Linked DNA regions of Homo sapiens. The protein of the gene in region 3 purifies or fractionates together with the protein of the main gene of each other region. This does not show direct contact. Each region holds a gene or a part of one and is shown on either strand. Other genes may lie near its edges.

What was found. Proteins that work in one complex are often made in the same cells at the same time.
Region 1: the proteins of LIN28B (region 3) and RBM34 purify together in Homo sapiens (affinity purification with mass spectrometry; 2 studies listed by BioGRID and IntAct, with this or other methods). This does not show direct contact.
Region 2: the proteins of LIN28B (region 3) and ZNF354A purify together in Homo sapiens (affinity purification with mass spectrometry; one large-scale study listed by BioGRID and IntAct). This does not show direct contact.
Region 4: the proteins of LIN28B (region 3) and LARP4 purify together in Homo sapiens (affinity purification with mass spectrometry; 2 studies listed by BioGRID and IntAct, with this or other methods). This does not show direct contact.

What each region holds. Positions count from the first base shown.
Region 1 is NC_000001.11:235,137,251-235,140,750, forward strand, and holds part of RBM34 (RNA-binding protein 34), read right to left. Parts: intron 925-3,500; coding exon 841-924; intron 691-840; coding exon 627-690; intron 1-626.
Region 2 is NC_000005.10:178,727,860-178,731,919, reverse strand, and holds the start of ZNF354A (zinc finger protein 354A), read left to right. Parts: upstream 1-1,260; 5' UTR 1,261-1,364; exon of another isoform or gene 1,365-1,854; intron 1,855-2,296; exon of another isoform or gene 2,297-2,846; 5' UTR 2,847-2,897; coding exon 2,898-2,930; intron 2,931-4,060.
Region 3 is NC_000006.12:105,026,607-105,030,106, reverse strand, and holds part of LIN28B (protein lin-28 homolog B), read right to left. Parts: intron 1-3,500. UniProt on the Homo sapiens protein: Suppressor of microRNA (miRNA) biogenesis, including that of let-7 and possibly of miR107, miR-143 and miR-200c.
Region 4 is NC_000012.12:50,407,385-50,410,884, forward strand, and holds part of LARP4 (la-related protein 4), read left to right. Parts: intron 1-3,500. UniProt on the Homo sapiens protein: RNA binding protein that binds to the poly-A tract of mRNA molecules. Associates with the 40S ribosomal subunit and with polysomes. Plays a role in the regulation of mRNA translation.

The DNA.
Region 1 (3,500 bases), on a different chromosome or scaffold from region 3:
AGAGTGTGTACTAAAAACTGTCTAATGAATAATTGAACTTTCTAGACCTCGGTCTATAATGTGTTAGACCAGATGATGTCTAATGTACCTTCTGACCTAATTATGCTTATTTGAAGAGGACTATGTTTTTGTTTCTTTTTAAGAAACAGGGTCGCCCTCTGTTGCCCAGGCTAGAATGCAGTGGCACGACTACAGCTCACTGCAGCCTCAAACTCCTGGGCTCAGGTGGTGCTCCCACCTCAGCCTTCTGAGTAGCTGGGACTGTCGGCATGCATCACACACTTGACTAATTTTTTTTTTTTTTTTTGTAAAGGCAGGGTCTTGCTACATTGCTCAGGCTGCTCTTAACTCCTGGGCTCAAGTGATCCTCCCGCCTTGGCCTCCCAAAATGTTAGGATTACAGGCATGAGCCATTGTGCCCAGCCAGGACTACGTTTTTGAAGGGAATGTTGACCTCGGTCCTTGTGCCTCTCTTGCCATCAACTCTGTAACCACAGAGGACATAGGCTGTTTCCTTCTGCGCTTCCCTCACATTGCTGATTCCAGTCCCCTTCCAGGAAAAGCCTGGAAGGAAACATTTCTCTCTACAAAGCTCTCGTTCTTTAAACAAATCAAGTACTACTTACAGATGAGGTCTCAGATGCGAGATCAACTCTAATACGAAATCCATCTGCAATCTGGGCCCCATTTCTGTATTATAAATACAAAGGGAAAATGGTTGTTAAAAATGAGCACTCGATTACTAAAACATCTATGCTAAAGTGAAACCAAAGAATAAAAAAAGTACTCATACATACTTATAGGACAATTATTCTGTTCAAACCTAAGGGATAAAATTACCTTTTCAATGCTTGCGTGGCAGCACTCTCCTCCTTAAACACAACATAGGCATTAATATTTTTCTGATCAGGATGAATTTTACGTCTACACCAAAAAAAAAAAAAGAAAGAAAGAAAAGAGAGACAAGGTAAATTTCTTAGCCTCAAAGTCACTAGAAAAAAATCTAGCTGTTTTCAACTCTTAACACACATGACAAGAATTCCTGGGTGGACATTTCATCTCTTTGAATAAATATTTAGTAATAACTCAAAAAATAACACACAACTTATAAAGATATTAGTGGAGACACAACCCATACTTTCTTAGGAATCATAACCATGAGAAAACAGATGAACCATGTATATGAATCCCTGAGAACCATACAAGAACTAAAAACTGACATCTTAGCTGCAGTCCGTATCTAACACACATATAAACAGTTGTGAAAGACGTGAGTTTTCCTCTTTACTGTGAAACACCCATATAGAAGAGTGCACAAACTACGTATAGCTGAGTGAATTAACAACAGCTCAACGTGCCTTGTAGCCCACTCAGAAGCCTCTCTGTGGCCCTTTCCCGTTGCAGCCCCTCCTTCCCTCCAAAGGCAACCACCATTCCCATTTTTATAGGAACTACTTCCCTGCACATCTTTGTGGTTTTATCAACCAAGTGTCTATTCTTAGACATCATACTTTGGTCTTGTCTATACTTTTGACCTGATATGTCTTTTGAATCTTGTTTAATTTACAGAGTTTTCTCTGTATCTCTTTATCTCTCACTATTTGGCCTGCAGAATTCCCCACAGCCTGGATTTTGTGACTGCAAGCTCATCAAGTAGTTTAACACAAACCTTTGTCCTCTATATTTCTTGTAAACTGGCAGCTGCATCAAAAGGATGGATCAGACTCAGACATGACCCCTTTGTCGCGACTGCTGGTGGGTGTTGTGTTCTTTCCAGGGAGTCATGTTATGACTGGTTTTTACCCTTTTGTCAATGACTGCAGCTGCTGCTACTAAATGCCTAAACTCATTAAGTCACTAGGTTTGCAAAATGGTGATATAATTTGGATGTGAGGAGTTAGCAAAAAGGACCTAGTAATGAACACAGATCTTTCCCTGAAGACATCAACCTACTGTTTTGAAGTAAGAAAAATGCTACTACACAAATGAGTATCATCAAGAAGGGAACTGGAAAATAGTGCCTGACATGACTGATGGCATTCTGTAATAATACACTATACTAATGCTTTTGTATTGATTAAACCAGCTGTGATTTACTGAATGCCTAATATATACCAGACACTCAGCTAGACATTTTATGTATTTCATTTAATCTCACATCTCCAACACGGTGTTTTTTTTCTGATTTTATGAATAAGGAAGCTGAGACTGGAAGAGGTACGTGACTGCGATGAAATGGCAACAAGTGGCTGGCCTAGGACTGAAACCAAGTCTAGCTGACTCTAGAGCCCTGCTCTTCACACAACACACAGCTGCCGACAACATCCAAATCCAACACATCCTAGTGCACCCCCAGGAACAAATGCTGGAGTTCCGCTTCCACCTAGAATGTAAAAAGCCAGAAAGTGCATCACTCCTGCTCTTACCAGTTAAGAAGAAACCAGATAACCCACAGCATCATAACTTTTGTTGCAGCCATCACAGAGCTGAAGTCTTGGGGAAAGCCAGCAGCTAGAAGCTAAGGACAGGCCTGCTTCCTCCAATGAGAGACAGAGGAAGCACTGGCTCTTCTGGCTCTACGATGGCCGAGCACAGGGGCAAAATGCTGGGCACCAGACAAGCAGGAAAGATTCCAGCCATGATCTCACTAAAACACTAGAGCTCAGCGTGGGCTGGGCCTGAAACAGAAGTCCTGGAAGCTGCCGAGGCAGGAGTGTGCGCCCATCCTCAGGATCTGCCCCACTGACCTCCACTCCCTGGGAAAGGCTGAGATCGCAGCTATGGGTGCTGCAGGCCTGGAGGACGGAATGGCCAAAGTGTGGGAAAGGCACAAAGCCCCACCTGGATTCTTCTTGAGAGGTGACAGCGTGCTGGCAGTCCTCAGAGCCCTCGCTTGCTCTCCGCACCTCCTCTGCCTGGGCTCCCACTTTGACGGCACTTGAGGAGCCCTTCAGCCCACCGCTGCGCTGTGGGAGCCCGTTTCTGGGCTGGCCAAGGCCGGAGCCGGCTCCCTCAGCTTGCAGGGAGGTGTGGAGGGAGAGGCGCGAGTGGGAACCAGGGCTGCGCGGCGCTTGCGGGCCAGCTGGAGTTCCAGGTGGGCGTGGGCTTGGCGGGCCCCGCACTCGGAGCAGCCGGCCGGCCCTGCAGGCCCTGCCGGCCCCGGGCAGTGAGGGGCTTAGCACCCGGGCCAGTGGCTGCGGAGGATGTACTGGGTCCCCCAGCAGTGCCAACCCACTGGCGCTACGCTCGATTTCTCACCGGGCCTTAGCTGCCTTCCCGCAGGGCAGGGTTCGGGACCTGCAGCCCGCTATGCCTGAGCCTCCCACCCCCTCCATGGGCTCCTGTGCGGCCCGAGCCTCCCCGAGGAGCGCCACCCCCTGCTCCACGACGCCCAGTCCCATCGACCACCAAAGGGCTGGGGAGTGCAGGCGCACGGCATGGGATTGGCAGGCAGCTCCACCTGCAGCCCCGGTGCAGGATCCACTGGGTGAAGCCAGCTG
Region 2 (4,060 bases), on a different chromosome or scaffold from region 3:
ATACATGCATATGGTAAAGCAAAATGTTGAAAAGTATATCAAGGTGTTAAATAGCAAGTGCAAGTATTATTCCAGCTCCCAGTACCCTCCTCAGAGGCAACTACTTTTTTTTTTTTTTTTTGAGATGGAGTCTCGCTCTGTCGCCCAGGCTGGAGTGCAGTGGCGCAATCTTGGCTTACTGTAACTTCCGTCTCCCGGTTCAAGCAATTCTCTGCCTCAGCCTCCTGAGTTGCTGGGACTACAGGCGCCCGCTACCACGCCCAGCTAATTTTTGTATTTTTAGTAGAGACGGGGTTTCACCATCTCGGCCAGGCTGGTCTTGAACTAACGTCGTGATCAACCCGCCTCGGCCTCCCAAAGTGCTGGGATTACAGACATGAGCCACCGCCCCCAGCCAATTAAACGTTTTTTTTAAAAAAATAAATGCAATGGAATGCAATGAAGCTATCAAAAATGCCACTGAGGGAGAATATTTATTGACAAATTCAAATGTTCAAGGCATATTCTTAAGTAGGGAAGCGCCAAACTTTCTAAATGGAGCCGGTGTTCTTTTTGTAACTGAGAAGATTTAGTTTAAAAAAAATATATATATATATACACACACACACACACACATATACATACATACATCCGTTGGCTTCACAGTAGCTGGCACCTCCCTCCCCTTTGCTTCAGGCACTTCCTGGGAGTCCTCGTCCATTCTCACCTCAGCGACGAAACCCCTCCACATACCCTGTTTCTCCTCACATTTATCCCCGAAAATGTTATATAATTATGTGTATGGCTTATTGTCTGCTCCCTACCCCCCAAAAAAATGTTCTCCAGGGCAGTGACGTTTCTTTCATTGATTGATACATGTGAAACCACTTGCAACCGTGCTTGGCACACAGCAGGTGCTCAGTGCCCCTCTGGTGAATAACTGAGGGGCACTAGGTCTGTTCTGGGCCGTTTTCCTGCCGCCCACGCCCTCCCTCCCGAAATTCCCACAGACACAGAGTTGCAAGTTACTGCCCTCAGCGAACCTCCCCTTATCTTCCCTATAACCAGGAACCTGGGGCCCTCCAGCTCACAGGGGCCCTCTTGTGGCATGTGGGCGCGTAACAGCTCAGCCGGGACCCCGCCTCAAACGCATGGAACTACACTTCCCCGAATGCAGGTGTCCTCTCGTGGACTCCATTTCCCAGCGGCCTCAGCGGCTGCCCCGCCCCTCCTGGTCCCCGGCGCGCCGCGGGGTGAGCGGCGCCGGGCCTGAGGTCGCCCAGACGCCGTCGGGGCGGAGCCGGGTCGCGAGGCTGCATCCCGGCCGGCGGTTCCGGAGCCTCGCGGCTGGGGAGGCGCGGCCCGGGACGCTCGAGCTTAGGGAGGTGAGCGTCGGCGGCAGGCCAAGCCGGTAGGAGGCGGCGCCCGGCACGGGGACTGCCTGCGGCTGCCGAGGCTCCGAAAGCCTTTGTGGGCGCTGGCGGGCACCCCCGCGTCTGTCACCGGCCCCCGCGCCGGGATCTGGACTCTCGCCCCCCCGCGGGGCGCTCCCTCGCCGTTGCTGGTGCACCCGCGTCCGGCTCGCCGTGGACGCCGGGCCTGGCGTTTCCTCCCGGGCCCGTCCTGCCCACTCCATGTGGGCCTCGCGGACTCGGGGCACCGGGACCCCGAGGGCAGGGCGGACGCAGCCGGGCCCCGGTTTCCGAGTCCGTCCCCAGGACGGCCACCCCTCCCGCCTCGGGACACCCAGCGCTTTCCTCTTCAGAGCTGGTGTTTGGCCGGGCGCGGTGGCTCACGCCTGTAATCCCAGCACTTTGGGAGGCCGAAGCGGGTGGATCACGAGGTCAGGAGATCGAGACCATCCTGACTAACACGGTGAAACCCCGTCTCTACTAAAAATACAAAAAAAATTAGCCGGGCGTAGTGGCGGGCGCCTGTAGTCCCAGCTACTTGTGAGGCCGAGGCAGGAGAATGGCGTGAACCCAGGAGGCGGAGCTTGCAGTGAGCCGAGATCAAGCCCTGCACTCCAGCCTGAGCGACAGAGCGAGACTCCGTCTCAAAAAAGAAACATCGTGTTAGAAATGGGATACATGGGGTCGGGCGTGGTGGCTCACGCCTGTAATCCTAGATTTTTGGGATGCCAAGGCGGGCAGATCACCTGAGATCAGGAGTTCGAGACCAGCCTGGGCAACACGGTGAAACCTCGTCTCTACTAAAAATACAAAAATGAGCCGGGCGCCTGTAGTCCCAGCTACTCGGGAGGCTGAGGCAGGAGAATGGCTTGAACCCGGGAGGCAGAGCTTGCAGTGAGCCGAGATCCTGCCACTGCGCTACTGCACTCCAGTCTGGCCAACAGAGCGAGACTCCGCCTCAAAAAAAAAAAAGCCGTTTTCCGTGGAGTCGGGAGATGATTCGTTGGCGGGAGAGAGAGGAACCGGCTGGGAAAGGCTTGAGGCGGAGGGAAGTCGTCCCGGGGCCGTCGTGGTGGGAGTCCCGGCCCGCCTCGCAGCGGCGTGAACGGGGCAGGTGCCCCGGCGCTGCCTCAGTTTCCTGAGCGGTGCAGTGGGTGCTGGCAGTGCCAGCTGGCGCCGAGGAACTCAGCGGCGTGGGGCGAGCCCTGGCCCTGGTGGGCTCAGCGGGTCGCTGCTGCCACTGCGGCTCCAGCGTCCCCTCCGTAAGCCCCAAGCCTGTGGGGCCTGGGCCTGGCCGGGCGGCCCAGCGCTGCTCTGGTCCGCGGGCTCCTGGCTCCTCCCGAATCCCTGTGAGGGCGCGCGGGGTCCTTCTCAGCGGGAGTCGGGGTTTTAGAGCTGCGGATTCCAGGGCTGGAAAGCAGAAGGGGTTCTTCCTGGCTCCCTTTTTCTTCTCAGATCTGCCTTCTGGAGACTGCGCCGTCCTCCCGGGAGAGCCAGAAAGAGGACATGGCTGCTGGGCAGCGGGAAGCGAGGCCCCAGGTGAGCTCATTGCCCTCCCAGATCCCAGTGGATGGATTTTCCCCACTAACTGGAGTTCTTCACCCGGGACCATCTCCAGCCAGGATGGAGCCCAAGTCCTTTTCTCTTGGAGGAGCTGGTCCGCCCTCATGAGTGGTGGATTCTGTAGGGAGGACCACCCACCCTCCCCACCCGTGTCTAGTGGTTCTCTTTTTTTTTTTTTTTTTTGAATCTCGCTTTGTCGCCCAGGCAGTGGCGGGATCTCGGCTCGCTGCAACCTCTGCCTCCCAGGTTGAAGCAATTCTCCTGCCTCAGCCTCCCAAGTAGCTGGGATTACAGGCTCCCGCCATCACGCCCGGCTAAGTTTTTTTTTTTGTGCTTTTATTAGAGATGGGGTTTCACCACGTTGGCCAGGCTGGTCTCAAACTCCTGACCTCAGGTGATCCACCCGCCTCAGCCTCCCAAAGTGCTGGGATTACAGATGTGCGCCACTGCACCCAGCCCGAATAAATCATTTTCTGTACACATTTATTTGTGTGTGTGTGTTTGTGTATGCATGTTACCATCTATGTTACCATTTTAACCTTTTTTTATTGTGGCAAAATATATATAACATAAAATATACCATTTTAACTTTTTAAGTGTATAATTCAGTGGTATTTTAGGTACTTCCGCATTGCTGTGCAGCCATCATCGCTATCCATCTTTATTGTGTAGATTATCACATTTATTTCTTAACCCTAAGGGGCAGGCATTAAAAGGCAGTTTTACAGAGTAGTTAAGAATGCAAGCTCAGTGAGACATCTGCTGGATTTGAATTACACAAGAAAAAACAAAGTCACAGAGAGGATACAAAATTTGTAGAAGTCAGCCGGCCACAGTGGCTCACACCTGTAATCCCAGCACTTTGGGAGGTCGAGGCCGGCAGATCGCCTGAGGTTAGGAGTTTGAGACCAGCATGGTGGAACCCTGTCTCTACTAAAAATACAAAAATTAGCCGGGCATGGTGTCTAGCACCTGTAATCCCACCTACTCAGGAGGCCGAGGCAAGAGAATCATTGGAACCCGGAAGGTGGAGGTTACAGTAAGCCAAGATCATGCCATTGCACTCCAGCCTAGGCAACAAGAGCCAAACTCTGTCTCAAAGAAAA
Region 3 (3,500 bases):
CTTAGCTTAATAGAAAGTTGGAAATTATTAGATATTAAGTGTGTCAAAGCTTTAATTACAATAAGACACACAGTAAGAGTAAGGAGTTGGAACAGTTATTCACTTCTGACCACCACCACCTCGTACCTTGCCAGATCAGTACCCCAACTATAATTCTTTGACTCCACTGCAACCCACACCCCATGTGTTTACTTACCACCTTTTCAATGTCTTCACTCTTTATACAGTTTATATTCTATCATCCATCATTACATTTGCTGCCCTGCATACATCTCCAGTGCCCTTTGTCATTCTCAACTAGGAAAAACCTCAACTCTAGTTAAATCATTTTAATGACTGTTTTACAGCTGTAGCCATGAAGTCAACAATGGCTGGAGAAAAAACACAATCACATTAACTGACTTTAAATTCGTACCCACTATTCTTATGTGGGTCTTTGGCACAGCCTGAAATTCTACCTCTTTTCTATAATGTGTTCATTCTTCTATTTTATACGTCTTTCTTGTTAAATTTCCAAACCTACTCTTCTACCATCACTCTCAGTTGATGACCGTGCTTCAAATTCAAAGAAAAAAAAAACCAGCATAAAAAAGAGAAATCTCGCCTTATCCTACCTTCATATCTATCTACCACCTGCATCTGTGCCCATAAGCTACGCCTTTCCTCCAGGTTTGTAAGAATGAACCTTCTGTACTCACATGATCAGCTCCCCCAGTTGTGCTTTAAATCCCAATACTGTCACCCACTCAAGGAAATCACTCCAGTAATCGTTCTCCTCTCTCCTGCATGTTCAATCTTTCCTTTGCACTAGACCATTCCTATGAACATATAAACATGCTATAATTTCTTCCATTTAGCCACTGCTTTGTTTCTTTCCTCCCATTTATTATAGAAACACTTCTCAAAAGATTGTCTAAACTTGCTGTCTCTGCTTCCTCTGTTTTCATTCTCTGTATTGAACACAACCCACGAAGGCTTTCACCCCCACCAGTCCACTCAGCCCGTTCTTGTCAACCTCAGACCTCAATAATGACTTCCGTGTTGCTAAGCGGTCAAGTTTCAATGGTTATCTTACTTGATCATTTCACCATCAGCACCATTTAACATACCTGATACCCTTTCTTGAAATATTTTCTTTCCCTGACTTTCCCTCCTATTTCCCACCTTCTTACTTAGTGCCCTTTGCTGTTCCTCCCTCTTCTTGACTCTTAAATGCTAGAGTGCCCCAGGGCTTAGTCCTCTTCTTACCTATGTATACTCACTGTGATGGTGATCTTATCTCCTCTTGTGGCTGTAAATATCATCTTTTTGCTAAATGTTGCCAATTTTTTAACTCCAGTGCTGGAACTCCATATAGTGCATCCATCTGCCTAATATACATCTTCACTTGGATGTGCATTATGTATCTCTAATTAAATGTCTGAAACTATACTTTTGATTTCAGGCTCCTTCTGTAGGTTTCCCCATCTTGATAAATAGTCCCTTCATCTTTCCTGTTGTATAGGCCAAAAAACCTTGGAGTCACCCTGGACTCTTTTCCTCTGATAGTCCAAATCTAATCAATCCATCAGTAAATTCTATGGTCTCTTCCTTCAAAACATATCAGAATTTTTGTTCACCACTTCTACTGCTACTACCCTTGTCCAAACCACCACTAGCTCTTTTCTGTATTATTGGAACTTCTTCTTTAGTGGTCTTTCAGCTTCTATCCTTGCCTCTCCACATTGTGCTGTCATTGCAGCTGCCAGAATGATACTCTGAGTAAATCAGATCATGTTACTTTTCAACCTAAAATTTCCCAATGACTTCCTATTTTCTCCAGAATCAAAGTCCTTAAAATGGTTGACAAGATCCAATATGAAAAAATGTCCTGCCATCTTACTCTTCAAATCTCAACCTCCACTATTCTCCCTCACATACTGATTCCAACCCAGAATTGGAATGTAAAGCATTCTAGAACTACTTTGTTAAAGATTTTATCTAAAAGACATGGAAAAATAAAGGGCTGTTTTATTTTACTTTGCTTTACTTGTACGTATTTAAGTATGTATGCAGGTATTATCTCCATGGGAGCAGAAAACCACTTTAATAGCTAAGTGTATCATTAAACTTTCACACACATTCATGGACTTTCTTTTGTACAAAATGAGCTCCTAAAAATGTCAATGAAAATGGAATTTATTGTTTCACTGGATAGCTTTTCAAACCAATAGGAAAATATGAAATAGGCAACAAGTGCTACAGAGATAACTGGTTACCAATTTGGAGAGAAAAGAAAACCTAGACCTTTACAGTTCTTTCTTCAAAAGCAAATTAGATTATAAAGAGAAGAGATACTTAAGTGTAAAATATAAATTAACTAAAATAATACTAAAAACATAAATGAATATAGCATATTTTTAATTTTGTAGTTTGGAAAATGAAATAAAGTCAGGTAACATCAAGGAGAGTCACAGACTTGTCTGTAAAAAATTCAAAACTTCAAAATACTTTTTAAAAACTATCATTAAAGATAAAATATATTTTATAAGCTAAAAAAATTTCTTATTTTTTATTTGAGAAGAAAGATTCATATCCTAAATATATCAAGAGAACTTAGAAATCAATAATAACAAACAAACATCTCAATAGAAAATGGTCAATGGACAAGAAATGTACAATTCTTAGAAGAAAAAAATGAAAACATATAAAATATATTCAACCTCCAAAGTAATCAAATAATGTGAAAAAAACCACAAACAAACAATGAGCTACATCTCTAACCTATGTAACTGGAAAAGATTTTAAAAAGACAACATTCAATGAGCTGTCTCACTTTCAGAGGTGTTACATACTGGCCCGCTAATCATTTCTGGAGAGTAGTTTAGAACTAGGTATTGAAATTTTTAAAATACATATTTTTTTGATCCAGATTTTCACTATTAAGTATTTACCCTAAAGATATAATCAGACAACTTTTCAAAAATGTACATCTAAGAGTTCCCACAGTGGTGTTATTGATCAATTCAAAATACATGAGGTAGCCTAAATATCCACTAACATATTATTCTTTAAATTATATTTTGGTACATTCAAATAGTAAAATTTATGAAGTGATAACAATTGACATGAAATATTCTATAATATACTATTAGGTGAAAAAAATTACAAGTTTCAAAATACCATATATATTATAATTCCCACCTCTAGGATTTCAAGTGATTTTTTCCTCTTTACGGTTTTTATATTATTTGGACTTTCTATACGTGAGCTGTCTTTCAAAAACAGACAAAACAATAGGTACATTTTCATTTGAAAAAAGAGGTGAGGTGTTTGGCAAATTCTGGGTGTAAAAAGGGGCACCTCTATCTATTGGGAACTTCAACTCCTCAACTGGGGTCTCAGAACAGTCTGGTGGAAAAGGTGGTCAAGGAACTATTCAGTGCTTAATGCTGAAGGCTCAGTTCAGTACATTCTGCAGATAATTCAAACTGCAAGATAGCCTATATTTCTGATATTTA
Region 4 (3,500 bases), on a different chromosome or scaffold from region 3:
TCTCAGCCTTGTTACTAACATACTCTGATTTAGGGCAAGTCAAACAATTTATAATTATTTAAAGTTTTTTTTATAGTTGGAGAGTATACTTTTGGTTGGGCAAATAAAAGTTTTAAAAGAGGAATGAAGATGGCAGTATGTTAAAATACACATTTACTTGCAGCATTTAAAGGAGTACAGCTGGGCGGGGTGACTCATGCCTGTAATCCCAGAATTTTGGGAGGCCGAGGCAAGTGGATCACTTGAGGCCAGGAGTTTGAGACCAGCCTGGCCAACATGGCGAAACCCCATGTCTACTAAAAATAAAAATATTATCTGGGCATGTGCCTGTAGTCCTAGCTACTTGGGAGGCTGAGGCACACCTTGAAGCAGAGGTTGCAGTGAGCCGAGATCATGTCACTGCACTCCAGCCTGGGTGACAGTGAGACTGTCTCAAAAAAAGGAAAATTAATTAAAGGAATACAAATGTTAAAATGCAAATAGGCACTTTGCACTTACTCTTTTGAAAAAAATTATAATGTAAAAGTGTAAGTAAATGTAAGAAAAAGAAACATCTAAGTATGTACTCATCTTTCCTGTCTTACCTGTGTCCTTGTCCCACCACTTGAACCAATCTTTGGTTCACAGAATATCTCTACTGTTTTTAAATGACGGGCTCTAAACCAAAGACAGAAGAGTGCTTTAGATGAATATTATTAGGGGTAGGATGTGAACTGCATTCATAAATGCCAAACTCCAGGGATGAGTTGAGTTAAGTTCTATTGGGTTTGTATGTACTGAGAGAAGAGAAAAGGATTTTCTGCTTTTTTTTTTTTTTTTTTTTTTTTTTCCAGCTGGAGTTTCTCTCTTGTTGCCCAGGCTGGAGTGCAATGGTGTGATCTCAGCTCACTGCAACCTCCGCCTCCCGGGTTCAAGTGATTCTCTTACCTCAGCCTTCCTGAGTAGCTGGGATTACAAGCATGCACCACCATGCTGGCTAATTTTGTATTTTTAGTAGAGACAGGGATTCTCCATGTTGGTCAGGCTGGTCTCGAACTCCCAACCTCAGGTGATCCGCCCTCCTCGGCCTCCCAAAGTGCTGGGACTACAGGCATGAGCCACCGCACCCGGCGAGAAAAGGATTTCTCGTCAGGGTAGAAAAGTCTGCAGTAATGCAGGGTAGAAAAGTCTGCAGTAATGCAGGGTTTGTGTAACAAATAGTTCGATAGTATTTCATACTACTGACTAGCAGGTAAGATGATCTTACCTGCTATTTTGCCCTGGAAGGTCACAGCATACAAATATTTTCTGTGACAGATGTTTTACCCTTTTTCCTTCTCAAAAGTATTCTGGTTTGTATAATAACTTGTAAATTTTCAGAAGAGATTAGAGGTTTACTGTGTGCTTATTGGCAAGACTTTCTTTCCTGCTATACTAACAAAGTAACATAATGCACGTAAGTGGGTACTGAAATATTTGTTACATTGGGTATGGCAGGCTGGGTGGGCGTGGCTCATACCTGTAATCCCAGCACTTTGGGAGGCTGAGGTGGGAGGATTACTTGAGTTCAGGAGTTCAAGACCAGTCTGGGCAACATAGTGACACCCCATGTCTTAAAAATTTTTTTTTTAAATATATTGGCTGTGGAAAATGTAAATTTATAGGGCAGAAAGTTGCAGTTGAGCAAGATAATGAAAATAGGATTATTTTTGCCTTTTGAGTTGGAGGAAGAAAAAAAATAGGAGGGCAGTGACTGAGTAAAATTAAGATACATTTATATACAAGGTTACATAAAAGATTTTTTTTTTCTTTGACCAGCAGGCAAGAAGAAAACAATGTCTAGAAACATGGACTCTGGGGCCAGCCTGCCTGGGTCTAAATCTCTGCTGAGACTGAGCCACTTTTTGTTTAATCTCTCTGCTTCCTTATCTGTAAATTGAGGACAATAATATGGGAGGGTAATATTAATATCTATCACGTAGGGATGTTAAGAAGATTGACAGAATAAAACATTTAGAGTTGTAGGCTGGGCGTGGTGGCTCACACCTGTAATACTAGCACTTAGGGAGGCAGACAGGAGGACTGATTGAGGCCAGGAGTTCAAGACCCAACCAGGGCCAGGTGCAGTGGCTCATGCCTGTAATCCCAGCACTTTGGGAGGCCAAGGCTGGTGGATCACTTGAGGTCAGGAGTTTGAGACCAGCCTGGCCAACATGGCAAAACCCCATCTCTACCAAAAAATATACAAAAAAAATTAGGCGGGTATAGTGGCACATGCCTGTAAGGGGCTGCATAGAGGGCTGAGGCAGGAGAATGGCTTGAACCCAGGAGGTGGAGGTTGCAGTGAGCTGAGATTGTGCCACTGCACTCCAGCCTGGATGACATAGCAAGATTCTGTCTCAAAAAAAAAAAAGAAAAGAAAAAGAATTATTATTATTATTATTATTTTTTTAAGATGGCGTTTCGCTCTTATTGCCCAGGCTGGAGCGATCTTGACTCATTGCAACTTCCGCCTCCCAGGTTCAGGCGATTGATTCTCTTGCCTCAGCCTCCTGAGTAGCTGAGATTACACACAGGTACCACCATGCGTGGCTAATTTTGTATTTTTAGTAGAGACGGGGTTTCTCCATGTTGGTCAGGCTGGTCTCGAACTCCTGCTCTCAGGTGATCTGCCCACCTCAGCCTCTCAAAGTGCTGGGATTACAGGTGTGAGCCACCACGCCCGGCAAAAAAAAAAAAAAGAACTATTTTGATATTTAATATTGATGCTTGAGGTTGAGGTATATTTAAGTTCGTTTGTGTAGTTAGCCATTAGCTTTATCAGCTGACTAATTGAAGTAATGGCTTAGTATTTTGAGGATTAAATACTAAATGTTAGATACCTTTTTTTAATAGAGACAGGGTCTTGCTATGTTGGCTAGGCTGGTTTGAACTCCTGGCCTCAAACGATCCTCCCATCTTGGCCTCCCAAAGTGCTGCGATTACAGGTGTGAGGAGCCACAACACCCAGTCTGTTAGACGTCTATTAATACAGGATTCTTTATCTTTTTTTTTTTTTTTTTGAGATGGAATCTCGCTGTTGCCCAGGCTGGAGTGCAGTAGTGCAATCTCTGCTCACTGCAGTCACCACCTCCTGGGTTCACGCCATTCTCCTGCCTCAGCCTCCCAAGTAGCTGGGATTACAGGCGCCCACCACCACGCCTGGTTATTTTTTGTATTTTTAGTAGAGACAGGGTTTCATCGTGTTAGTCAGGATGGTCTCGATCTCCTGACCTCATGATCCGCCCTCCTCAGCCTCCCAAAGTGCTGGGATTACAGGCGTGAGCCACGGTACCCGGCCTAGAATTCTTTATTTTTAATGAAAATATTCATGAATCTCATGTTGAACTTTCTAGGGAGAAATTTGTAACTTTGATTATATTTTCAGAGTGATTCGTGACCCCCAAAAGGTTAAGTGCCACTAATCGATGGTGGCGTCAGGTTCTTTTGATGAATGACAGATACTGTCTGATTGAGATAGT